Homo sapiens: one gene and its partners. The protein of the gene in region 5 interacts with the protein of the main gene of each other region in a biochemical or structural test. Each region holds a gene or a part of one and is shown on either strand. Other genes may lie near its edges. The genes, in order: SEPTIN7, USP10, KPNA1, RPA1, HDAC6, TRIM50 and MIIP.

Region 1 (3,500 bases), on a different chromosome or scaffold from region 5:
CCCGTCTCTACTAAAAATACAAAAATTAGCCGGGCGCGGTGGCGGGCGCCTGTAGTCCCAGCTATTCAGGAGGCTGAGGCAGGAGAATGGTGTGAACCCGGGAGGCAGACCTTCTTACAGCGAGCCGAGATCGCGCCACTGCACTCCAGCCTGGGCGACACAGAGAGACTCCATCTAAAAAAAAAAAAAAAAAAAAAAAAAAAAATTCAGCCGGGCATGGTGGCACATGCCTGTAATCCCAGCTACTCGGGAGGCTGAGGCAGGAGAATCACTTGAACCGGGGAGGCGGAGGCTGCGGTGGCTGAGACTGTGCCATTGCACTCCAGCCTGGGCAACAAGAGCGAAACTCCGTTTCAAAAAAAAAAAAAAAGTTTTAAAAAAGCAATTTCAGAAATGAAAACAGAAACATCATAACATCCATGACCACAGCTTTCTTGATTGCTATGGTGTCAAAGTGTCTGATACTTCCTGGAGTCAAATACTTGTTAAATCAATGAACAAAGTTTACAAAAGTTTCAAATTACCACTGCAGGAATATTTCAAATATATTTTATAAAGCACAGCAAAACTGGTGGAAAATAGTTTTGATTTTCCTGAAAACAGTCAATCAGAGCCAAAGATTTTCAGGGCCCCATCCCAGGCCTATCATTTATCAAAGTGTGAAACACTATGAGAATCTGTATTCTTTGAAAAACACCATGACGTTCATTTTATTTGAAATCTTATATAATAAAGAAGTTATAGGGATGGGGAGACTTTAGAAAGTTACCCAGAAAAAACACTTTAAATGAGTCAACTAACAAAAACAAAAAAACTAATTCATGGCTATTAGAAATCTTATCAGTGGTTACCTGGGGCAGTAGAAGGAGAACTCCAACAGGGCACAAGAAACTCTGGGATGGTGGAAGTATTCTCTATCTTGATTAGAATAAAGGCTACAAGATGTGTGTATGCACATCAGCAATTCATTGAACTAAATACTTAAAATCCACGTATTTTTTTCTATGAAAGCATACAATAATGAAGTTACTTGATAAGTCGGAAAGCATTTGGAAATGTAGACTCCTGGGTCCCTCTCCCAGAGATTGCTAATCAATGGGTCTTGTAGTGGGAACCAGTTAATCTGCATTTTTAACTCCAAGCCATGGTTGACCCTTCAACCATACTTTAGAAAATAATGACCTAGCATAATGTTCTATGTCCAGTAATTACTGATCATGCTTTGCAAAAATATATCAATTAATGATAAACTTTTAATACAAAAAAATCTAGGTAATTTTGATTCCCAAGTTTAGGAAATACTAAGAATATTAAGTGGTAGGAGTTCCAGGAAGAAGTAAAAAGTAAGACAGTTAAGGAAGCTTGTTCCTTCTTCCCCGTCTCCCACAATCCTTCAATGGCTCTCCATCACCTAGTGCAGTGGTTCTCAACCAAGGATGATTCTGCTCCCCCACGTGACATTTGGCAATGTCTGTAGACATTTTTTTCATTTCACAACCAGAGAGAGCATGTGCTGCTGGCATCTTAGCACGATGACAGCAGGGATGCTGGTAAATACTGTACAATGCTCAAGACAGCCCTCCCCTCCCTCAAATAATTACAAAACCTCAAATGAGAAACTCTGACCTGGAGCCTCACCTCCAATAAAGCTACCAGAAGTAGTCAGTTGTGTCCCAGAGTTAAACAAAACAACAGAATTAAGATGTTACAACTTCAGGAAAGTCCATTTTTACTTCCAGATCAGTGGGGAAGGAGGAAGAATATCATCTTTATATTTCACATAAAGCAAACAAACATTGAATAAAATGCAAATGACACATGAATACTTAAGACTTAGAAAACTTCAAAATAACGTAAGCAGGAGCAGCTTCAGGCTATCCCCCCAATCACAGGGGATACTTAATTCTCAGCTTTCAAAGTATAGTATTTTTAAAGTTAACACTGGCCTAAAACATAATACTGTACATAAACTTTAGCATGACAGTCTGTTGCTGCAGCATAGTTTAACCTAGTGCTATGCAAAGTGTGGTCTGTGGACCAATGAGCCAGTCTGTGAATTATCAGTTTATGTCAGAGAAACACAAATTGAGAGCACAAAAATGGAAAATTTAATAGCAGAATAATTTTATGTCTATTGAAACTAATAATAAAAAATTGGGGCTTATAGTTTATCTTTCTTATTCCATTTCCACTTTTTTTATTTGCAGTATAGTCATGCAGTATGTCCAACGTTTGGTCAACAATGGACATTTATGACAGTAGTCCCATAAGATTACTATGGAGCTAAAAAAATTCATATCACCTGTGATGTCATAGCAGTCACAAGTTCATAGTACAGCACATCATCTTTTCTATGCTTAGAAGCACAAACACTTGGCCGGGCGTGATGGCTCACATCTATAATCCCAGCACTTTGGGAGGCCGAGGCAGGAGGATCACTTGAGGTCAGGAGTTCCAGACCAGCCTGGCCAACATGGTGAAACCCCGTCTCTACTAAAAATACAAAAATTAGCTGGGCGTGGTGGCGAGTGCCTGTAACCCCAGCTACTTGGGAGGCTGAGGCAGGCAAGCACCTGTAATCCCAGCTACTCGCGAGGCTGAGACAGGAGAACTGCTTGAACCCAGGAGGCAGACAGAGGTTGCGGTGAGCCAAGATTGCACCATTGCACTCCAGCATGGGCAGCAAGAGCGAAATTACGTCTCAAAAAAAAAAAAAAAAAACAAAAAAAGAAACACGCTTACCATTTGTCATAATTGTTTACAGTAGTCAGTACAATAACAAGCTATACAAGCTCATAGCCTAGAAGCAATAGGATATAGCCCAGGTGTATAGTAGGCTCTACCATCTAGGTTTGTGTAGGTAAAATACTCTATGATTTCTCAATGTACCGTATTGTTAACAACGCCTAACTGTAGTTTTTAAAATTACAATCTAACCTACTCTGACTGGTGTATCTATTGAGTAGCAAAGCCAAGATTTGCATCCATATCTAACATCAAAGCCCATGTTCTAAATCATTATTAAGATTTTGAACTCAAACCCCAATGTGTAATCCCTACATCTGGATAGCTGGACTGCACCAAGTGTAAGTCACAAGGATTTAGTGTGTGTCTGGTCTACGGCCTTCAACACTTAATGCCAGCCAAGCTGCCTCTTTGGCCCCTCTTCCCCAAGCCCATGCTCAAAGCTTAGTCTCCAGATCTCTGATGATGCAAAAGGACACAGGAAGACAAAAACAAAGAAAAGATTCATCCTCAAGGCCTAAAGCAGAGTCACCGAATGCTACCCTTTTCTTTTGGAAGCCACCCTGGTTTCTGGCTATGGGGGATAACATCCTCTCAAATAGGAGTAGGCCTCAGATCTCTCTAACCATGCGAGCTACATGGAGTACAGGATAAATGAATCCAAAGTAAGAAAAAGCCACACGGACTTAACAGTCTTTAATTTTAAAGTCTTCCTTCCTCACACCAAGACCTCCAACCCCTAACATAAGGTTCGA
Region 2 (3,500 bases), on a different chromosome or scaffold from region 5:
GTATTTATATTTATTTATATTTTTATATTTATATATATTTTTATATATATATATTTTTTGAGACGAAGTCTTCCTCTGTCACCCAGGCTGGAGTGCAGTGGCGCAATCTCGGCTCACTGCAAGCTCCGCCTCCCGGGTTCACGCCATTCTCCTGCCTCAGCCTCCGGAGTAGCTGGGAATACAGGTGTGCGCCACCACGCCCAGCTAATTTTTTGTATTTTTAGTAGAGACGGGGTTTCACGGTGTTAGCCAGGATGGTCTCCATCTCCTGACCTCGGGATCTGCCCACCTCGGCCTCCCAGAGTGCTGGGATTACAGGCGTGAGCCACCGCGCCGGGCCAAGACTATATATATATTTATTCAAGACCTGAAGTAGGCTTTCTGGGTAGATCTGATCATTGGAGAAGGAGAAACATATTTATTACGAGATACTAAGCATTGTAGTAGTCATCATTTGAAGCCTATAAACTCTATAAACTGCATAGTTTAGAAAGTGCCTTAGCTTGTTTGAGCCTTTACAGCAACTCTGTCCTGTATTATTATAACCATTTTACAGATGAGTAAGATAAGACCCAGAGAGGTTGTGGCTTGAGGTCAAATGGCTGCTGGCCATCAGGACCTTTTAAAAGCAGGTGTTTTGACTTCTAAATCCTTTGCTTTTTCTACTTTGCCAGACTGGTTTTCTGGAAGAGACTGATGAAGGCATAATCTTTCACACTGTGACTTCCCCTTAGTAGTTCCTCCATAAACATTTACAGAATGAATGAATGAAATGTGCATTTAGAAACTTTAATGTTACTAATTACAAAATTTGTTACTATAATATGTTACTATTCACTAAAGTTTGTGTGGGGTACATTTTAATAAAGTCGTTTATTTTATTTTCTAGTATAAAGACATGCTATTTTTAAGACACGAAAACAGCACAGACGTATTTAAAGTGAAAAGTAGAAGTCATTCCCTTCCTCTCTGATCCTTAATCGTCAGTTTGGTGTGTGTCTTCTATGCTTTTTTCCACTGGAGTATTTTGTTGTTGTTGTTCCGTTGTTTCATAATATGGTCTGTTGTATCTAGTCACTGAACTTTATTGAGCAAACCTTGTTTTCAAAATTATTGAAAACATCCACTGAAGTCAGTTTTCTTAGGTTTACCTAATTTTGCCAGGGAATGAAGCAGATATTCTGGAGATTGAAGTGACTTATCAGGATCCAGTGTGCAGGGGATTGTGGAAGTGCTGCCACAACTTATAACATGTTGTCCAAACAATTTTTTTTTTTCTTAAGAAATATTTTGGGCCAGGTGCAGTGAGTGACTCACGCCTGTAATCCCAGCACTTTGGGAGGCTGAGGCAGGCGAATCACTCAAGCTCAGGAGTTTGGGACCAGCCTGGGCAACGTAGCAAAACTCTTTCTCTACAAAAATACAAAAATTCACTGGGCATGGTGGTGCTCTCCTGTAGTCCCACCTACTTGGGAGGTTGAGGTGGGAGGATCGCTTGAACCTGGGAGGTGGACATTGTAGTGAGTCGAGATTGTGCCACTGCACTTCAGCTTGGGTGACAGAGCGAGACTCTTACGTCAAAAAAGAAAAGATAAGAAATATTTTGAAGACTTCCACCCCCTTAGTAGTAGTCATGCTGTCCGGTGTTCATAGTGTAAAAAGAGGTCTGGCTGGGCGTGGTGGCTCACGCGTGTAATCCCAGCACTTTGGGAGGTCGAGGTGGGTGGATCACCTGAGGTCAGGAGTTTGAGACCATCCTGGCCAACATGGTAAAACCTCATCTCTGCTAAAAATACAAAAATTAGCCGAGTGTGGTGGCGGGCACCTTTAATCCCAGCTGCTCCGAAGGCTGAGGCAGGAGAATAGCTTGAACCCGTGGGGGCAGAGGTTGCTGTGAGACAAGATCACGCCACTTCACTCCAGCCTGGACGAAAGAGTGAAACTCCATCTCAAAAAACAAAAAAGGAGGTCTGATTCACATTCAGATTCTTGTCCATCCATTGCCTTTGCACTAGATTTATGAGAGGACAAACTTTTTATTAGTTGGAGATTGGTAAGTCACCTGCCCTAGGGAATAATGAGAAACTGGGTAATTCACCTGAATTTTTCTCCATCTTCTTCAAAATCATGTTTTTGTCTTCTGTCACTTTGTTTCATCAGAGTACTGCAATGGCAAAAAACAAAACACTTCCCAACTCAGGTCCCACTCCTGAGAGATAACCACATTTAAGTACTTCTGACTTGTAATAGAATGCAAAATCGGGGCTTCCAAGTGTGGTTTACTATTTTGTTTAGAATTAATTTGTAGAATACTAGACACTTTTTTCAGAACCACATATGAAGGACTTTATATCTTTTGTGATTGTTCACAGATTTTGGTGGCCGGACGTTAGGAGTATAGAGCTGAAGAGAGAATTCCTGTGCTTTAGAGGTTCGCTGGGTAGTGAGGGAGAGAAGCAGGCTAATGGCTGGGTGCATCCAGTTTTAGGGTGGTAATTCCTGTAACACAAGTGTGAACAACATAGTCAAGAACATTCATTCATTCGTTTGTTCATTCATTCAGCAAATAGTTACCGAGTGGCTGCTGTGTACCAGGCACTGAGGAGGGAGTGATGAGCGAAAACAGGCATTGTTTCTCTCGCGGAGGAGTTTATGGGTCCATTGAGGAAGACAGCTTGCTAATCAGATAATCACAGTTACGTACACGTCACTCCAAACTGAGAGATGTTTCCCAAAGGAAGGGAACACAATCTGAAGTCAGAGAACCGTTCCCGTGGAAGTGACGTGTTTACAGCATGAGACAGTGGGGACAGCATGTGTGGTGGACCTTTGGCTGGAGGGAATTTGGAGCACTTTGGAGAACTCAGCAAGGAGTTGTGTGTCTTGGGCACAGAGCTGGAGGGGAGGGACAGACGCACCATCCAACCTTGCAGCCTTTGTTAGATGTTACTGTCTTTATTCTGAGAAAAGTGTGGAAGAGGGGGTGGTACAACATTTGACCATGGAACCTCATAATCACATTGCCTTTTGGGATCATACTCTGCCCAGTGAAGAATAGACTCACGGGGTCGCAGTGGCCATAAGGAGATCATTTAGGGCAGGGTCCTTGGACTTTTGACTCGGAGGGTGCCGTGGAGGTGGAGAGAAGTTGCGTGACTCAGGAGTTAGGTATAAGGTGTTTCAAAAAAGGAGGAGAGTGGGACTGAATGTTGGGCAAAGCTGGGAAGACGTCTCTTGTAGAACGGTGACATTTGAGCTGGAGTTTTTCAGGCAGAGAAGCACACGGACAAGGGCATGTGGAGGAGACTGTGCAGAGGAACTGTCTCAAAGCCTGCAGCCTGTTTGGGAAACAGATAAATTTGTGGCTGAAATGGTGTGTAGGGTGAAGTGGTTAGCCGGGAGTCTGGAGAGGAGAGAGAAAGAATTTGGTAATCCAAGCTCAGGACTGAGTGAAGTTGGTAGCAACTCTGTGTTAAGATAGCTGGTTGAGGCCGGGTGCG
Region 3 (3,500 bases), on a different chromosome or scaffold from region 5:
CAGCCGGGTGCGGTGGCTCATGCCTGTAATCCCAGTATTTTGGGAGGCAGAGGCAGACGGATCATGATAGGATATCGAGATCATCCTGGCCAACATGGTGAAATCCTATCTCTACTAAAAATACAAAAAAGGCCGGGCGCAGTGGCTCACGCCTGTAATCCCAGCACTTTGGGAGGCCGAGGCAGGAGGATCACAAGGTCAGGAGATCGAGATCCTGGCTAACACAGTGAAACACCGTCTCTACTAAAAATACAAAAAATTAGCTGGGCACGGTGGCGAGCGCCTGTAGTCCCAACTACTTGGGAGGCTGAGGCAGGAGAATGGCGTGAACCCGGGAGGCGGCGCTTGCAGTGAGCCGAGATAGCGCCACTGTACTCCAGCCTGGGCGACAGAGTGAGACTCCATCTCAAAAAAAAAAAAAAAATACAAAAATTAGCTGGGGGTGGTGGCGTGTAACTGTAATCCCAGCTACTCGGGAGACTGAGGCAGGAAAATCGCTTGAACCAGGGAGTCGGAGGTTGCAGTGAGCCAAGATCGCGCCCAGCCTGCACTCCAGACTGGCAACAGAGCCGTCTTTAAAAAAAAAAAAAAAGGTAATCACCCTGCCCACCAGTAAATGCATTCCTAACTTTCAGTGGTAAATTGCTAACATTAAAATCAACAATCATAACTCTTTCAAGGAGTATTTTTAAAGTCACTCTATAAAAAAAAGTCAGTCTCTCAATTTGAATTAACATGATACTGACTACTATTCACTATAAAGTCTTTTATAAAATAACCCAAAAATGAAAATAATTCTGTTTTCTGATCCTGGTGAGATCCCACAAATAAATAGGAAACTTAAAATTTAGGCATGGTTCACAATTACATATATGTCTGTATTTTTATTCTTTTATTGATAAAAATACTCCAACACAAATTACCTGTGGTATGAAAAACAGACTATGGGAAAGTAATTTTGTAGAGAGATGAAAAAATATACTGAACATATTCATAGCTCACCTTTTGAAAGCAGCTTCCTGAATTTCTGTGTTGCTGAAAGCTGTTGCTCTGGGCTTTTGGAAAATATCATTTCAATCATGTCAGAAGTGATGACACCACCCTGCGATCACAAACAAAAAGAACATATAATAAATTATCACCCTTAATTCAAAGGAAAGAAAGATAACAGATATCATGGCCAAGTTATTAAGTTAATCATACTTCCCCAGAAGTTACATAAAGGTAGGACAATCTTTACATATAGAAACGTGTAAGATTATTAATAATATAATGAAGCCAAATTCTTTGTCTATCATTAAAAAGCTCACAGTAGAAAGTGATCTTACTAGTAAATAAGACAAGGAGCTTATTGCTCTTCCCCTCCTTGCTCATCACATAGCTGGCTATTCTTTCTTATCAAAATTAAATGTTAAGTTTTAAAAGATGGCTTTTCAAGACCTCCAAGCCTAAAGTAGCCACTTTATCTCTATCACAGCACCATATTTCAATCGTATGCCCCAGCCCTTATTACACTCCCAGATATTTTTCTGTGTTCCTCCAGTATACTGTAACTTCCTTGTAAGCCCAAGACCCTGTCTGTCTTACTCTATCACTAAGGGCTGGTGTACTGTAAATGCTCTGCAATACTTATTGAGTGAGTAAATAGAGTGGTCCTGTATAAATCCAGCCACTGCCAAATTCAACAGCTGACTCTTAAACTTATTTAAAATTTCTTTCTTGTTTTATTAAAACTTTCCAGTTTCCCACTACCTTCTTGCTTTATTAGAATGTTTCCATTTCCCACCATAACTCATCCCCAGTATTAGCAGTTAATTTTCTTCTCAGGGTCATTTGTCAGAAAGAAACAAAGTTCTTATTTCATGAAGGGTAGCAGTCAACAAGATGAATTGTGAAGAAAGCTGCACTAAGCTGTAAATGCTAGATGACTGGTAAGCAATACCTAAGAATCCTCATAGGGGAATATATGACGCATTCTACTCAAGAATCAGAAAAGTAACTATTTTCAAAATTGCAAGACTGATTCCTAAATCAAGGTTTCTATATGATTTGTTATGAATATGTTTGCATAAACACATTCATATATATATATACACACATTAAGCAAATATCTTTTTCTTCCCTCTCTCATCCTCTTATAGCAAGCTGTACTGACTTTACATTACACTATTTAAGTATTGTTAACTTTACATTATAATATTTAAGTCACAGGCTATCAAGGACAGGAGTGAACATCACCCAAAGATTTTGCATCCTCTTCCGCAGAAGGAGTTAGTAAAGATGTGCCTCAACTTACAATGAATGGGGTTATGCCCCACTAATCCCATCATAAGTTGAAAATATTAAGTAAAAAGTACACTTAATACACCTAACCTACCAAACTTCATTGCCTAGCCTAGCCTACCTTAAACATGCTCAGAACACATACATTAGCCTACAGCTGAACAAATGATCTAACACAAAGCCTATTTTATAATAAAGTGGTTGACTATCTCGTGTAATTTACTTAATACTGTACTGAAAATGAGAAACAGAGTGACTGTATGGGTATTCAAAATACAGTTCCTACTGATTGCATATTGCTTTCACACCACTGTAAAGTTGAAAAATCCTGACTTGAACCCTCCTAAGTCAAGAACCATCCATACATTTTTAGTTGCACAAAGGAAAGTTGTAATCTGGCTGGGTGCGGTGGCTCACGCCTGTAATCCCAACACTTTGGGAAGCCAAGGCGGGTGGATCACGAGGTCAGGAGTTCAAGACCAACCTGGCCAATATGGTGAAACCCTGTCTCTACTAAAACTACAAAAAAATTAGCTGGGGGTAGTGGCGCACGCCTGTAGTCCAAGTTGGCCTCATCCAATCAGTTGAAACCCTTAAAAGCAAAGACTAGGTTTTCTGAAGAAAAGGGATTCAACAACATCAACTCTTAACCTGAATTTATAGTGGGCCAGTGTGCCCTACAGATTTCACACTTGCCAGCTCCCAAAGACACGAGCCACTTTCTTAAACTAAATTTCTTTCTCTCATTGGTTCTGTTTCTCTGGAGAACCCTAATACAATCCATAAAACACTTTATATTCACTTAACACTCTCTTCTTAAAAAAATTGGAAAGACTGGCTTTCTGAAGGGCCTAGAAACTTTCATCACAAAATGATGGCATTGGCTATGTCTGTATGAATTCCAAAGGAAATAATACTACCCTCCCAACTCTCAAAGAAAGCTGGTTCATGTAAACTGGAGATCTATGAAATGAAATAAAAATAAAAACTACAAAATACTATGAATAGTATGCCACCATTTACCAAAAAAAAAGGTGGGGGAGAGGAGAACATTTTAATATACAAAAGTTCTCAGAAAGAATAAATAGGAATTTAGTAATACTAGTTGCCAATGGAGAAAAATACTAGGTGGCTAAGCGGAAGAAAGATTTTTCTTCATTTTTTTTAATTGTACTTTTTTTGTTACTACAAACAACAGTACCTTTTAGGAGATAATT
Region 4 (3,500 bases), on a different chromosome or scaffold from region 5:
CCTGGCCAACATGGTGAAACCCCGTCTCTACAAAAAATACAAAAAGTAGTTGGGTGTGGTGGCACATGCCTATAGTCCCAGCTACTCGAGAGGCTGAGGCAGGAGGATTGTTTGCATCTGGGAAGCAGAGGCTGCAGTAAGGTGAGATGGCACCACTGTACTCTACCTGAGTGATAGTAAAGCCCTGTCTCAAAAAAAAAAAAAAAAAAAAAAAAACTAGCTGGGCGCAGTCGTCCCAGCTACTCAGAGGGTGAGGAGGGAGGATCACTTGAGCCAGGGAGATAAAGCTGCAGTAAACTATGATCATGTATGTCACTGCACTCCAGCTTGGATGACTAAGTGAGATCCTGTCTCAAAAAAAAAAAAAAATGAAGCTAGAGGCCAGGCACGGTGGCTCACGCCTGTACTCCCAGCATTTTGGGAGCCCAAGGCAGGTGGATCACATGAGGTTGGGAGATCAAGACTAGCCCAGCCAGCATAGTGAAACCCCGTCTCTACTAAAAATATAAAAATTGGCTGGGTGTGGTGGCGGGCACCTGTAATCCCAGCTATTCAGGAGGCTGAGGTAGGAGAATCGCTTGAACCCGAGAGGTGGAGGTTGCAGTGAGCCGAGATCTCACCACTGCACTCCAGCCTGGCGACAGAGCTAGACTCCATCTCAAAAAAAATAAAAAATAAAAAATAAAAATGAAGCTGGAGAATTTACAATGCCAGATTTCAAGATTTACTATAAATCTTCAATGTTTATGATGATGTGGTATTGACATAAGCACCAACATAGAAATCAATTGACATTCCAGAAACAGATACACATATACAGTCCATTGATTTTATATAAAGTGACTAAGGGGCCGGGCGCAGTGGCTCACGCCTGTAATCCCAGCACTTTGGGAGGCCGAGGCAGGTGGATCACGACGAGGTCAGGAGATTGGGACCATCCCGGCTAACACGGTGAAATACCGTCTCTACTAAAAATACAAAAAAAAATTAGCCGGGCATGGTGGCGGGTGCCTGTAGTCCCAGCTACTCGGGAGGCTGAGGCAGGAGAATGCTGTGAATCCGGGAGGTGGAGCTTGCAGTGAGCCGAGATCGTGCCACTGCACTCCAGCCTGGGTGACAGAGCGAGGCTCCATCTCAAAAATAAAAAATTAAAAAAATAAATAAATAAAGTGACTAAGTAACTCAATGAAATGGGATAGTGTTTTCAATAAACAGGGCTGGAACAACTGAATATCTGTATTTAAAAAAGAGCTATATATCATAGATAAAATAGTAAACTTGAAATGCATTACAGACCACAAGGCAAAGCGAAAACTATAAAACTTCTGGAAGAAAACACAGCATAAAAGATTTGTGACCTTGGGTCGGGTAGGCAAAGATTTCTTTTTTTTTTTTTTTTTTGAGACTGAGTTTCACTCTTGTTGCCCAGGCTGAAGTGCAATGGTGCGATCTTGGCTCACCACAACCTCCACCTCCTGGGTTCAAGTAATTCTCCTGACTCAGCCTCCTGAGTAGCTGAGGTTACAGGCATGCGCCACCACGCCCGGCTAATTTTGTATTTTTAGTAGAGACGGGATTTCTCCATGTTGGTCAGGCTGGTCTCGAACTCCTGACCTCAGGTGTTCTGCCCGGCTTTGCCTCCCAAAGTGCTGGGATTACAGGCGTTAGCCACTGCACCCTGCTGTTTTTATTTTATTTATTTAATTATTTTTTTGAGACGGAGTTTTGCTCTGTTGCCCAGGCTGGAGTGCAGTGGTGCGATCTTGGCTCACTACAAGCTCCGCCTCCCGGGTTCACGCCATTCTCCCGCCTCAGCCTCCCGAGTAGCTGGGACTACAGGTGCCTGCCACCACGCCCAGCTAATTTTGTATTTTTAGTAGAGACGGGATTTCTCCATGTTGGCCAGGTTGGTCTCGAACTCTCGACCTCAGGTGATCCGCCCGCCTCAGCCTCCCAAAGTGCTGGGATTACAGGCATGAGCCACCACATCCAGCCTAGCAAAGATTTCTTAGGACACACAAACACAACTCTGCAAAAAACAAAACAAAAACAAACAAAAAAACACAACCTGATAACTTGGACTTCATGAAAATTTAAAAGTGCACTTCAAAAAAAACAAAATTTCAAAAAAGAAAAGGCAAGTCACAGATTGGGAAAAAATATATGTAATATTTATATTTAACAAAAGACCTAGCAAGAATCAAGAATTCTCACAACTCATTAATAAGCACAAAACCCAATTTTTAGGTGAACAAAAGATGTGAACAGACACTTCTTTCGTGAAGATATACAAATGGCCAGTAAGCCCACGAAAAGATGCTCAACGTCACTAGCCACCAGAGAAATACAAATAAAAGCACAGTGAGATACCATTACACATTCACTAGAATACTCGAAATCAAAGACTGATGACTGGCAAGGATATGGAGCAACTAGAATTCTCATGATCACACTGGAAAAGGTTGGCGATTTCTTTTACACATTCAGTTACCTGTGACCCAGCAATTACATTCCTAGATATTTATCCCAGAGAAACGAAAACATATTTCCACAAAAAGAGTTGTACTTAAATGGTCATAGCATCTTCATTTATAATAGCCAAAAGATGAAAATAACCCAAATGTGCAATAATAAGTAAATAAACAAATTTTGTTATAGTCATACAATGGAATACTACTGAGCCATAAAAAGGTGCAGATTACTGAATTAACATGGGTAAATCTCAAAAACCATTTTGGTCCACAGTGGTGGCTTGTGCCTGTAACCCCAACACTTTGGGAGGCCAAGGTGGGAGGATCACTTGAGCCCAGGAGTTCAAGATCATCCTGGACAACACACCAAGACTCCATCGCTACAAAAAATATTTTTAGGCCGGGCGTGGTGGCTCACACCTGTAATCCCAGCACTTTGGGAGGCTGAGGCGGGTGGATCACGAGGTCAAGAGATCGAGACCATCCTGACCACCGTGGTGAAGCCCCGTCTCTACTAAAAATACAAAAATTAGCTGGGGATGGTGGCATGCGGCTGTAATCCCAGCTACTCGGGAGGCTGAGGGAAGAGAATCGCTTCAACCCAGGAGGCAGAGGTTGCAGTGAGCTGAGATTGCGCCACTGCACTCCAGTCTGGCAACAGAGCAAGACTGTGTCTCAAAAAAAAAAAAAAAAATTTTTTTTTAATTAGCCAAGAGTGGTGGCATGCACTTGTAGTCCCAGCTACTCAGGAGGCTGAGGTGCGAGGATCTCTTGAGTTCAGGAGGTCAAGGCTGGAGTGAGCCATGACTGTGTCGCTGCACTCCAGCCTGGGTGACAGAGACCCTACCTCTGGGGAAAAAAAAAAAACTGCTGAAAGAAGCCAGACACAAAAGGATAGATATTATTTGATTCCATTTATATGAAGTCTTAGGAAAGGCAAAACTAACCTACAAAGGTAGAAACCAGAACACTGGTTGCCTAGGGTGAGGATGGAGGTGGGGAAGGAGCAAGAGGAGTTGTGCGTTGATG
Region 5 (3,205 bases):
GAACTTGCCTTCATGCCATACAGAAATCCGTCTTCACACTGTCCAGGAACCCCTGGCCTCACATCATACAGTAACCACTGACCTGACCTGCACAAGACGACTGCTGTGAACCCATACAAAAGCCCCTGCCCTGACCTAGTACAGGAACAACTGGACTCTTTCTCCACATGGACTCCTGTATTGACTTTTTTTACACTCTACAGGAATCCCAGTTGCTATTCTTTTTACAGATAAAGAAACTGAGGCTCAGAGTGGTTAGATGACTTGTCCGAGGTCATAACAGCTGAAGAGGCAGCACTGGGGTTTGAACTTGGGCTCTCTGATGGAGTCATCTGTGTTCTTAACTCCCACCGTGTCCTGTCACAAGCAGTACTGGGCACATAGTAAGTGCGACTTTTTGCAAGCCAATTAATTTCTCAGTGACTTATTTTCCTCATCTGTAAAGTGGTGAAAATAACAGCACAGGCTGGGCGCGGTGGCTCACCCCTATAATCCCAGCACTTTGGGAGGCCGAGGCGGGAAGGTTACCTGAGGTCAGGAGTTTGAGGCCAGCCTGGCCAACATGGTGAAACCCCCGTCTCTACTAAAAATACAAAAATTAGCCAGGCGTGGTGGCATGCGCCTGTAGTCCCAGCTACTCGGGAGGCTGAGGCATGAGAATTGCTTGCTCGAGCCTGGGAGATAGAGGCTGCAGTGAGCCGAGATAGCGCCATTGCACTCCAGCCTGGGTGACACGGCGAGACTCTGTCTCAAAAGGAAAAAAAAAAAAAAAAAAAAAAAGAGGCAGGTATGGTAGCTCATGCCTGTAATCCCAACACTTTGGGAGGCTGAGGCAGGTGGATCACGAGGTCAGGAGTTCAACACCAGCCTGGCCAACATGGTGAAACCCCGTCTCTACTAAAAATACAAAAAAATTAGCTGGGTGTGGTGGCAGGCACCTGTAATCCTAGCTACTCAGGAGGCTGAGGCAGAGAACTGCTTGAACCCAGTGAGCCACAATCGCACCACTGCACTCTAGCCTGGGCGACAGAGCAAGACAACGTCTCAAAAAAAAAAAGAAAAAGAAAAAGAAAATAAGAGCACAGAAGGTTGCTGAGTGGGTTAATATCTGAACAACGCATAACAGTAACCAGGGGCCAGGTGCGGTGGCTCATGCCTGTAATTCCAGCACTCTGGGAGGCTAAGGTGGGTGGATTTCTTGAGGCCAGGAGCTCAAGACCAGCCTGACCAACATGGTGAAACCCCATCTCTACTAAAAATACAAAAATTAGCTGGGCGTGGTGGCGGGTGCCTGTAATCCCAGCGACTCAGGAGGCTGAGGTGGGAGGATCACTTGAAGCCGGGAGGTGGAGGCTGCAGTGAGCTGAGATCATGCCACTGCAGACTAGCCTGGGTGACAGAGCGAGACTCTTGTCTCACAAACAACAACAACAACAACAACAACAAAAAACCAGATCCAAAAGATCCAGCATTTACCATATGCCAGGCATTCCTCCATGATTAGCCTGCCTCATAAAGATGAGGAAACTGAGGCACAGGGCGTGGGGATACTGAGTCATTTACAAAGGTCAGTGAATTTCCTTTGTCCCAGGAACTTGTTAGAGGCAGTTCAGGTAGAGTAAAAAGCACAAACCCTGGAGCCAGGCTGCATGGGTTCAAGTCCTGGTTCTGCCATCAGTAAATGTGCCATCTCAGGCTAGTCATCACACCTCTTTGTGCCTCAGTTTCCCTGATCTTCAGAGAGGAAAATGAGGTAAGCTTACCCTACCTCATAAGGCTGCTTTGCCAAGTAACTGAATGAATAAGACACATGAGGTGCTCAGAAGAGTGCTCTGCACATAGTGAGCACTCAATTAAGGCTGTTAATGTTGCTGTTATTCTTATTACTACCCAGTATGTGCCAACAATCCCAGGCAGGGACACTCAAAGGAGATTTCAGGAAACTGTCCTGAGTGATGGTGCCAACATTTCCAAACTACCCTCCCACTGTGGGAAGAGGGACCAAGAGAAAGTTACCTCTAGGATAAGGATAATGCGGCCACTGGCAAGGCCCATCAGCAGGTGGGTGAGGTGGGCATAACCCTCAGGTGACACCTGGCAGCCCCCCAGCGGATCCCCCCGTGCAGCATCAAAGCCAGCTGAGACCAGCACCAGTTCTGGGTTAAACTGAGGCAGGGAGAGAAGAGATGTATAAGCATGAGGGTAGGGGCTTTTGGTAGGCAGTAAGTGATGGCGACCCAGAGACATGGAGAAAAGGACAAATGAAGACATGGAGATGCAAGTCAGAGAGATGGAGACACAGAACCTGGAGACTAGGAGACACAAAAGCAGAGACTGAAAATGAAGAAGGGAAGAAAAGAAATACAGACTCAGAGGTAGAAGAAATAGATGCAGACTTAGAGACATGGAGATGGCAGAAAGGGACAGATGGGGGCCGGGCATGGTGGCTCAGGCCTGTAATCCCAGCACTTTGGGAGGCCGAGGCGGGCAGATCATGAGGTCAGATTGAGACCATCCTGGCTAACACAGTGAAACCCTGTCTCTACTAAAAATACAAAAAATTAGCCAGACGTGGTGGCGGGAGCCTGTAGTCCCAGCTACGCAGGAGGCTGAGGCAGGAGAATGGCATGAACCCAGGAGGCGGAGCTGGCAGTGAGCCGAGATTGCACCACTGCACTCTAGCCTGGGTGACAGAGCAAGACTCCATTTCAAAAAAAAAAAAAAAGGGACAGATGGGGACATGAGACAGACTGACACGTCAAGAGAGTGACATGAAAAACAGAGAGACAGAGACATGTCCTCACACACACATACCCCAGGGTCAAACGTGGGACACACATACACAAGATACAGGGTTTTATATACATAGTGCCAAAGAGAGGTGCTTGCACACTTCCAAAACAGAAGATGGCAACGCAAGAACCACATACAGAGAAGATGGTCACACAGAGCCACACGTACTGCCACACAGACAGTACCATATAGATCAGTACTATATATCTGCACTAGTCATGTACACACACACAGTTTCTCAAAGAGGACAATAACCCACAGCCATCCTGCACAGTCACATACACATGCCATCACCACACAGCCACAATGGCGACATGCACTCTGGTATGTCCACAAGAGCTGGTTATTTGCACATACAGTTGTACACACACAGAAGGCTGTCCTGGCTACCCATGCACAGTCAGATGCACAT
Region 6 (3,500 bases), on a different chromosome or scaffold from region 5:
TGTGCCCCTCTGCCAGGTCCCCCAGACACCTGCTCCTCCTCTAGCATTCTGTTTTGTTTTCTGAGACAGGGTCTCGCTCCGTCACCCAGGCTGGATCATGCAGTAGCATGGTCACGACTCACTGCAGCATCAAACTTCTGGGCTCAAGCAATCCTCCCGCCTCAGCCTCATGAGTAGCGGGGACTATAGGCACATGACACCATGCCCAACTAATTTTTTTATTTTTGTATTTTTTGTAGAGATGGGGTCTTACTACATTGGCCAGGCTGGTCTCGAACTCCTGGCCTCAAGCAATCCTCCTGCCTTGGCTTCCCAAAGTACTGGGATTGCAGGCATGAGCTACCCTCCTCTAGTATTTCTGTAGCTTGAGTGAACTTCTGCTGTTCTAGGTACCCACAGTTCACCATCTGCCTCCCCACCCATCTACGAGACCCTTGAAGGCAGGGACATGACTTTCCTCTGTTTTTCCCAGGCTCAGTTATAGAGCCAGCTGTGGGCAGCTGCTTGGGAGGCGCTGGTTAAACCGAATGGAGGAACCAGTGGAGCTGAGATGCCCGTGCCCGCAGCCACCAGACCCTGGCTGAGCTCTCTCCAAGGTTATTACCTGGAGGCCATGGAGTGGAACTTCTGGAAGGCAAGAGAGAGGGAGGTTAAGGCTAGAAGGTGGGAAGCTAGGGCACTGTTGGGAAGGGGAAGGCCCTGGCGGGTATGGGGATGGGACGCCTCCCTGTCCACTCACCCGGATGAACTTGTGGTGGTCCTCATTGCCGAACTGTTCCAGCACACACTCGGCTTGGGCCAGCCGCTCCCGGGTTCCCTGGGCCTGCTCCAGCTGCATGTCCAGGGAGGCCACCAGGCCACGGGTGTGACCCCCTATCCCCTCCAGGCAGCGGGCCTTCTCCTCATCCACCAGGTGGTGCAGCTCCTGGAACTCGCGGCGGATCACCCAGCTGAAGACATCCGACTCATTCTGGGACAGGGAGGGCTGGTCACTGCAGAGTCACAGCCGAGCTGCCAGGCTCTGTCTGGCTGGCCTCGGTGTCCCCAGGGCCTTCCTGACCGGGTTGGTCCTGGGACCTGAGTCTCAGGGGAGGCTGCATGGCCTGGCGCCGGGCAGGGAGTTCACCCCATGCATGGGGAGCCCTGGCGGTGGCCGTGGGGAGGGTGACCCCAGCTCCCGTTTCAAATGGAGAGGCTCTGTTTTGGCCTGTTTTAATTTTTTTTTTTAAGAGACAGGGTCTCACTCTGTTGCCCAGGCTGGAGCACAGTGGCATGATCATAGCTCACTGTAGCCTTGACCTCCCAGCCTCAAGCAATCCTCCCGCCTCAGCCTCCCGAGTTGCTGGGATTACAGATGCACGCCACCACACCCCACTTTGCCTATTTCAGCTATTAAATGTGCATATCCCAGAGTTCCACAACTGAAGGAAAGCAGGAAGGCCCTAGGCGAGCAGGCTTTGCTGTGAGGGAGCCAGAACTCCCTGCAGAACCCTGAGCTCCGCCTCCACCAGGCAGGGCTGGTACCGCCTGCCGCGCAAGGGTGAGGAGGGTAAATGAGGGAGGCTGAGTGCTCCTGGATCTTGCCCGGCTCCTGTTTCTGTTTCACAGCCACCTCCAGGGCCGGGGCACTATGGCTCCCAGCCCCATGTGCCTCTCACTTCGGGAGATCAGCCAGGGCCCAGGGCTGCCAGCCTCTCCACGCCTGAGCACCCAGGTACTGGGAGGGCACCATGACAGGCTGGCAAGGTCAAGCAGACACAGGTGGCACAGGGGCGGAGGAGTCATGCCCATGCTTTGAGCTGTTTACCCCCTGAGACTCAAGTCCTGGGTTATCTCAGTCTCAAGGACACAGAGGGCAAAAGCCAACTTGGAGCCAGTCCTAACGACAACTGGGTTGAATTCCCCTGAGAGGATTTGCGCTTTCCCCACCCCGCCCTGGGAATGCTTTGAGTTCTGGCTTTATATGGAAGGCATGGTTTTCTGTAAAGGACCAATGAGAACTGAGTTCTACAGGAAAGTGAAGGTGGCCGGTCCCAGGCAGGGGCAGAGGGAAGGGGCACTCACGACGATTCGGGTCCGGTTGTTCACCAGTTTGGCGATGAGCTCATCCACCTTTTTCTGCTCCTGCTTCAGCTCAGAGATGAGGGCTGCGAGCTCCTCCTGGAGGCAACAGGCCATGGCCCCATGAGCAGCTGATCCCTCCCCTTCTCAGCTCCTTGGATCACCTTCTTGGGAGTATCCCAATGGCCACAAGCACTCCCAGGGAAACCAGGGCGGGAACCAGAGCCACCCAGGTACCCTTGAGTCCAAAACAGGTTAAATTGTTCGAGAATAGTCTGGGCGCAGAAGCTCACGCCTGTAATTCCAGCACTTTGGGAGACTGAGGTGGGACTTCACTTGAGGTCAGGAGTTCGAGACTAGCCTGGCCAACATAGTGAAACCCCATTTCTATTAAAAATACAAAAATTAGCCAGGCGTGGTGGCATACACCTGTAGTCCCAGCTACTTGGGAGGCTAAGGCACGAGAATCGCTTGAATCTGGGAGGTGGAGGTTGCAGTGAGCCAAGATCATGCCACTGCACTCCAGCCTGGGTGACACAGTGAGACTCTGTCTCAAAAAAATAAAAATAAAAAATAAGATAAATTAATTCAAGAATATTCTAGGCTGGGCGCAGTGGCTCACGCCTGTACTCCCAGCATTTTGGGAGGCCGAGGCGAGTGGATCACCTGAGGTCAGGAATTCGAGACCAGCCTCAACATGGAGAAACCCTGTCTCTACTAAAAATACAAAATTAGCCAGGCGTGGTGGTGCATGCCTGTAATCCCAGCTACTCGGGAGGCTGAGGCAGGAGAATTGCTTGAACCTGGGAGGCAGAGGTTGTAGTGAGCCAAGATCGCGCCATTGCACTCCAGCCTGGGCAACAAGAGTGAAACTCCGTCTCAAAAAAAAAAAAAAGGAATATTCTAGGCTGGGCACAATGGCTCGTGCCTGTAATCCCAGCATTTTAGGAGGCCAAGGTGGGAGAATCACTTGAGGATAGGAGTTTGAGACCAGCCTGGGCAACACAGTGAGATCCCATCTCTAATTTTTTTTTAAAGAATATTCTGCATTGACAGCAGGAACTTCCCAGGCATAAGAGGGTCTCAATGTCACCCCTCTGCATGACATGGAGAGAGTCACTAAACGTTACAGCTACCAGAAGTCACCATGTGATGCTGGCACTTCCTGGATTGAATGCTGCCTGTAGGGGACCCATCAGGTGAACTCTGTGGTCACCAGCAGATCCAGAATTAGTGGGTATTTAATCAGGAGCCATCACAAAAAGGCCGGCGCCAGGTGAGGCTAATTCTAGGGCCAGTGGTGCTCACACGGGCCTGGGTTAAACCTGGTGAATCCCCACACCCATAAACACCTGAATCCATTCCTGGTGGGCTTGGACACAGCACGGATTTGCGACCTCCCCAAGCTGACATAAATGCACTTCTCCTGGACTGCCCGG
Region 7 (4,001 bases), on a different chromosome or scaffold from region 5:
AGGGACTCCTGGTGCTGGCATTTGGCAGGTGGGAGAGAGGCCACCCCCGATCTGGCCACATCACGGAGGTCCCCTCGACAGGCATCTGGTGGGCCCCACACGGAGGACCGGCCCCGTGGGCAGGAGGTGCTCAAGGAAGTTGAGGACGTCTCTGGGGTCGATGGAGTCTCTGAGTTGTAGCTGCTGCTGGATTCCAGGCTTGACTGGAGAGAGGGGCCGGGTCACCCAGGGAGTGGCTGCCAGAACCTACCCACCGGGCCTACGCCAGGCACCAAGGCAAGCATCCTCATCCTGCTCCGGCCTCAGCAGTGACCAAGGCCAGTCTCTTCCCTCCCCAGCCCTCAATGTCCCATCATCAGTAAAATGGGTGTATTGAACAAGATGAGCCCAGAAGCCTGGATGCTGGCCTGAAGGTCAGGTAGCCCCTTCCTCTGGGGTTCCCAAGGCGGGCACGCACCTCCGAGGCTGCCCTGGCCACTGACCGCCGCACAGCATCCTGCCCCACCCACAGCTGCCTCAGGAGCTCCAGATTGAGCAGCCGCAGCTGTGCCAGTTCCTCAGCCTCCACCATCCTGGGCCTCTCTCAGCAGGTGTCACTTGCCCCTGGGCCGCAGGATGTCCTCAGGGCTGGGTTCCAGGCCCAGCTCTTCTACCTGAAGTCAAGACAGCAGGACACGGGGCTCAGTAGGGTGCCCTGTGGTGCCAGAGACCCCCATTCGACACTCTTTAACTGTACTGCCTCAGGCAAGTTATTTAACTTCTCTGTGCCTCAGTTTCCTCATCTGCTGGACGACAACAGTATCTACCTCATACGATTGTTGTTAGAATTAAAGAAAGCATGTTAAGCCTGGACAACATTTGTAGAAACATTTTTTTTTGTTTTGTTTTTTTGTTTTTTTTTTTTGAGATGGAGTCTTGCTCTGTCGCCCAGGCTGGAGTGCAGTGGCGCAATCTCGGCTCACTGCAAGCTCCGCCTCCCGGGTTCACGCCATTCTCCTGCCTCAGCCTCCTGAGTAGCTGGGACTACAGGCGCCTGCCACCACGCCCAGCTAATTTTTTGTATTTTTAGTAGAGACGGGGTTTCACCGTGTTAGCCAGGATGGTCTCGATCTCATGACCTTGTGATCCGCCTGCCTCGGTCTCCCAAAGTGCTGGGATTACAGGCATGAGCTACAGTGCCTGGCCAAAAAAAAATTTAATTAGCTGGCCATGGTGGCACTTGTCTGTGGCCCCAGCTACTCAGGAGGATAGCTTTAGCCCAGGAGACCCAGGCTGCAGTGAGCCATGGTTGCATCACTGTAAAAAAAACAAAAAACAGGCCAAGTGGCTCACGTCTGTAATCCCAGCACTTTGGGAGGCTGAGGCAGGAGGATCACCTGAGGTCAGGAGTTTGAGATGAGCCTAGCCAACGTGGCGAGAGACCTCGTCGCTACTAAAAATGCAAAAATTAGCCGGGCGTGGTGGCACGCGCCTGTAATCCCAGCTACTCGGGAGGCTGAGGCAGGAGAATCACCTGAACCCGGGAGGCAGAGGTTGCGGTGAGCCGAGATCGCACCATTGCGCTCCAGCCTGGGCGACAGGGTGAGACTCCGTCTCAAAAACAGCAACAACAACAAACAATTAGCCGGGTGTGGTGGTGGGCGCCAGTAATCCCAGCTACTCAGGAGGCTGCTGAGGCAGGAGAATCGCTTGAACCTGGGAGGCGGAGGTTGTAGTGAGTGGAGATCACACTACTGCACTCCAGCCTGGGTGACAGAGCAAGACTGTCACACACACACACAAAATACAAAAAACAAAGCACTCAGTACAGTGCTTACTTAATACAGTGCTTACAGTGGTATACAGTAAGCATTCAATAAACGTCTATTATTACCAAAATGGCTGGGGCAAGGGCATGCTTCCTTTTTTTCTTGGCTCACTGCAACCTCCGCCTCCTGGGCAGTGGTTTGGACAAGCTTGCTTTATAACTGGTGAGTCCAACACAAATCAGGCTTCAAAAGGGATTCTTCCTCCTTTCCTGCCCTCCCTTCCTCCTTCACTTTCTTTTTACATATGAAGAAACCAAAGCTCAGGGAAGTTAAGCAACTTGCCCCAAGTCACACAGCTAGCAAGAGGCTAGATCTGAACCAAAATTTGACTCCAGGGTCCATGAGTTCAGGGTTCTTGGAAAGCCTTTCCCTGGAAGTGTGGGGGAGCCTGGGAAAACTCCGCCTCCTCCTCCCAGCCCTTGCCCCCCACCTCCAAGGATCCTCAGGATCGGGTGCAAGGTCTGGAGCACAGAGTAGCCGACTACCCCGGAACCTCCCCCACACACGTATATTACCCCGCAGGGCCGGGGGGCACGGAGATGCAGTCCAGAGGGGCCAACTGTTTGATCCGCAGGACAAAGATCCCGGCCCCCACCCCTAACTGGCCAAGTGGCTCTGGGCCACACCCCTATAGTCAGAGGGTCGCCGTTTTCGCACGGGGTCAAAGGGCACAGCAGGCCTTGCCCTCCCCTGGCCCCGGCCGCGCTTTGGAAAGGGAAAAGCTGAGCGGAGACACCGGGAAAGCGACGCTCCAGAAACACCGGGGCCGCAGAAGTAACAGAGGGCGAGCGGGCGGACGCCGAGGCGGGACCCCCGCAGAGGCAGATGCAGCCTACCCTTCTTTTCCACTGCGGCCCCCGAGCCCCTCGCGGGAATGCACGTGGGGCCTCCTGCCGAGCCCTTCCGCCCCACCCCAGTCCTGCCGCCCAGCACTCACCCGGCAGAATCCCCTAGCATGCGCCGCCGTAGCAGCCGCAGCCGCCTGAGCCGTTCCAGGGGCCTCGGCCGGCCGTCTTGATTGGTCAGGTGAGGGGCAGGGCCGGGACGTCTGGTGAGCGTTACTCGGCGATCCGAAGTGTCAGTTTCAGCGTGGGGGCGGGACTAAGAGCGGAGCTACACAACCGATTGGTCAATTTTCGAGGCCGGTGCGGAGGTCGATTCCTGGAATGGGGCGGGCCCCGGAAGGGCGAGCTCCGATTGGTCAGCTGCGGGACTGGATACGCTGAGTTCAGCAGCGGCAGTTTCAGTCAGGCTGGGCGGCCTAGGCTCGGCGCAGGCGGCAGTCCGGAGCGGCGGGGTAGGTGGGGCAGGCGGCTGGCTACTCATTGTACTCATCGTTTCATACTTTTCTTTTTTTTTTTTTTTTTGGAGACGGAGTCTCACTCTGTTGCCCAGGCTGGAGTGCAGTGGCGCGATCTCGGCTCACCACAATCTCTGCCTCCCGAGTTCAAGCGATTGATTCTCCTGCCTCAGCCTCCCGAGTAGCTGGGACTACAGGCGAGCGCCACCATGCCCGGCTTTTTTTTTTTTTTTTTTTTTTTTTTTTTTTTTTTTTGTATTTTTAGTAGAGACAGGGTTTCACTATGTTGGCCAGGCTGGTCTCGAACTCCTGACCTCGTGATCCGCCCGCCCCGGCCTCCCAAAATGCTGGGATTACAGGCATGAGCCACTGCGCCCGGCCTGCTTTATACTTTCATTCAGGTTTTTAGCGAGTGCCCGCTTTGCGCCAGAAGATAAGGACTACACAGTAAACAAGAAAGTGTAGTATTGGGGCCGGCCGCGGTTGCTCACGCCAGTAAACCTAAAAATACAAAAATTAGCCGGGCGAGGTGGCCGGCGCCTGTAATCCCAGCTACTAGGGAGGCTGAGGCAGGAGAATCGCTTGAACCCAGCTACTAGGGAGGCAGAGATTGCAGTGAACCGAGATCGCGCCACTGCACTCCAGCCTGGATGACAGAGCAAGACGCAAGACTCCATCTCAAAAAAGAAAAAAAAAAAAAAGATACCCAGCCTGGGCAACATGGCAAAACCCCGTCTCTACAAAAAATGAGCCAGGCACGTACCTGTAGTCCAGCTACTCGGGAGGCTGAGATGGGAGGATCACCTGAGTCCAAGAGGCTGAGGCTGTGGTGAGCTTTGATTGCACCACTGCACTCCACCCTGACTGAGAGACCCTGTCTCAATAAATAAATT

Evidence for each region.
Region 1: the proteins of HDAC6 (region 5) and SEPTIN7 form a complex in vitro, tested with the Homo sapiens proteins (one study listed by BioGRID).
Region 2: the proteins of HDAC6 (region 5) and USP10 form a complex in vitro, tested with the Homo sapiens proteins (one study listed by BioGRID).
Region 3: the proteins of HDAC6 (region 5) and KPNA1 form a complex in vitro, tested with the Homo sapiens proteins (one study listed by BioGRID).
Region 4: of the proteins of HDAC6 (region 5) and RPA1, one has a biochemical effect on the other in vitro, tested with the Homo sapiens proteins (one study listed by BioGRID).
Region 6: of the proteins of HDAC6 (region 5) and TRIM50, one has a biochemical effect on the other in vitro, tested with the Homo sapiens proteins (one study listed by BioGRID).
Region 7: the proteins of HDAC6 (region 5) and MIIP form a complex in vitro, tested with the Homo sapiens proteins (one study listed by BioGRID).

The regions. Positions count from the first base shown.
Region 1 is NC_000007.14:35,804,057-35,807,556, reverse strand, and holds part of SEPTIN7 (septin-7), read right to left. Parts: intron 1-3,500.
Region 2 is NC_000016.10:84,706,500-84,709,999, forward strand, and holds part of USP10 (ubiquitin carboxyl-terminal hydrolase 10), read left to right. Parts: intron 1-3,500. UniProt on the Homo sapiens protein: Hydrolase that can remove conjugated ubiquitin from target proteins such as p53/TP53, RPS2/us5, RPS3/us3, RPS10/eS10, BECN1, SNX3 and CFTR.
Region 3 is NC_000003.12:122,462,940-122,466,439, forward strand, and holds part of KPNA1 (importin subunit alpha-5), read right to left. Parts: intron 1,103-3,500; coding exon 1,003-1,102; intron 1-1,002. UniProt on the Homo sapiens protein: Functions in nuclear protein import as an adapter protein for nuclear receptor KPNB1. Binds specifically and directly to substrates containing either a simple or bipartite NLS motif.
Region 4 is NC_000017.11:1,836,505-1,840,004, reverse strand, and holds part of RPA1 (replication protein A 70 kDa DNA-binding subunit), read right to left. Parts: intron 1-3,500. UniProt on the Homo sapiens protein: As part of the heterotrimeric replication protein A complex (RPA/RP-A), binds and stabilizes single-stranded DNA intermediates that form during DNA replication or upon DNA stress.
Region 5 is NC_000023.11:48,819,067-48,822,271, reverse strand, and holds part of HDAC6 (protein deacetylase HDAC6), read right to left. Parts: intron 2,167-3,205; coding exon 2,017-2,166; intron 88-2,016; exon of another isoform or gene 9-87; intron 1-8.
Region 6 is NC_000007.14:73,318,083-73,321,582, forward strand, and holds part of TRIM50 (E3 ubiquitin-protein ligase TRIM50), read right to left. Parts: intron 2,161-3,500; coding exon 2,065-2,160; intron 993-2,064; exon of another isoform or gene 971-992; coding exon 740-970; intron 628-739; coding exon 605-627; intron 1-604. UniProt on the Homo sapiens protein: E3 ubiquitin-protein ligase that ubiquitinates Beclin-1/BECN1 in a 'Lys-63'-dependent manner enhancing its binding to ULK1. In turn, promotes starvation-induced autophagy activation.
Region 7 is NC_000001.11:12,018,297-12,022,297, reverse strand, and holds the start of MIIP (migration and invasion-inhibitory protein), read right to left. Parts: upstream 2,801-4,001; 5' UTR 2,746-2,800; exon of another isoform or gene 2,324-2,745; intron 654-2,323; 5' UTR 572-653; coding exon 458-571; intron 204-457; coding exon 1-203.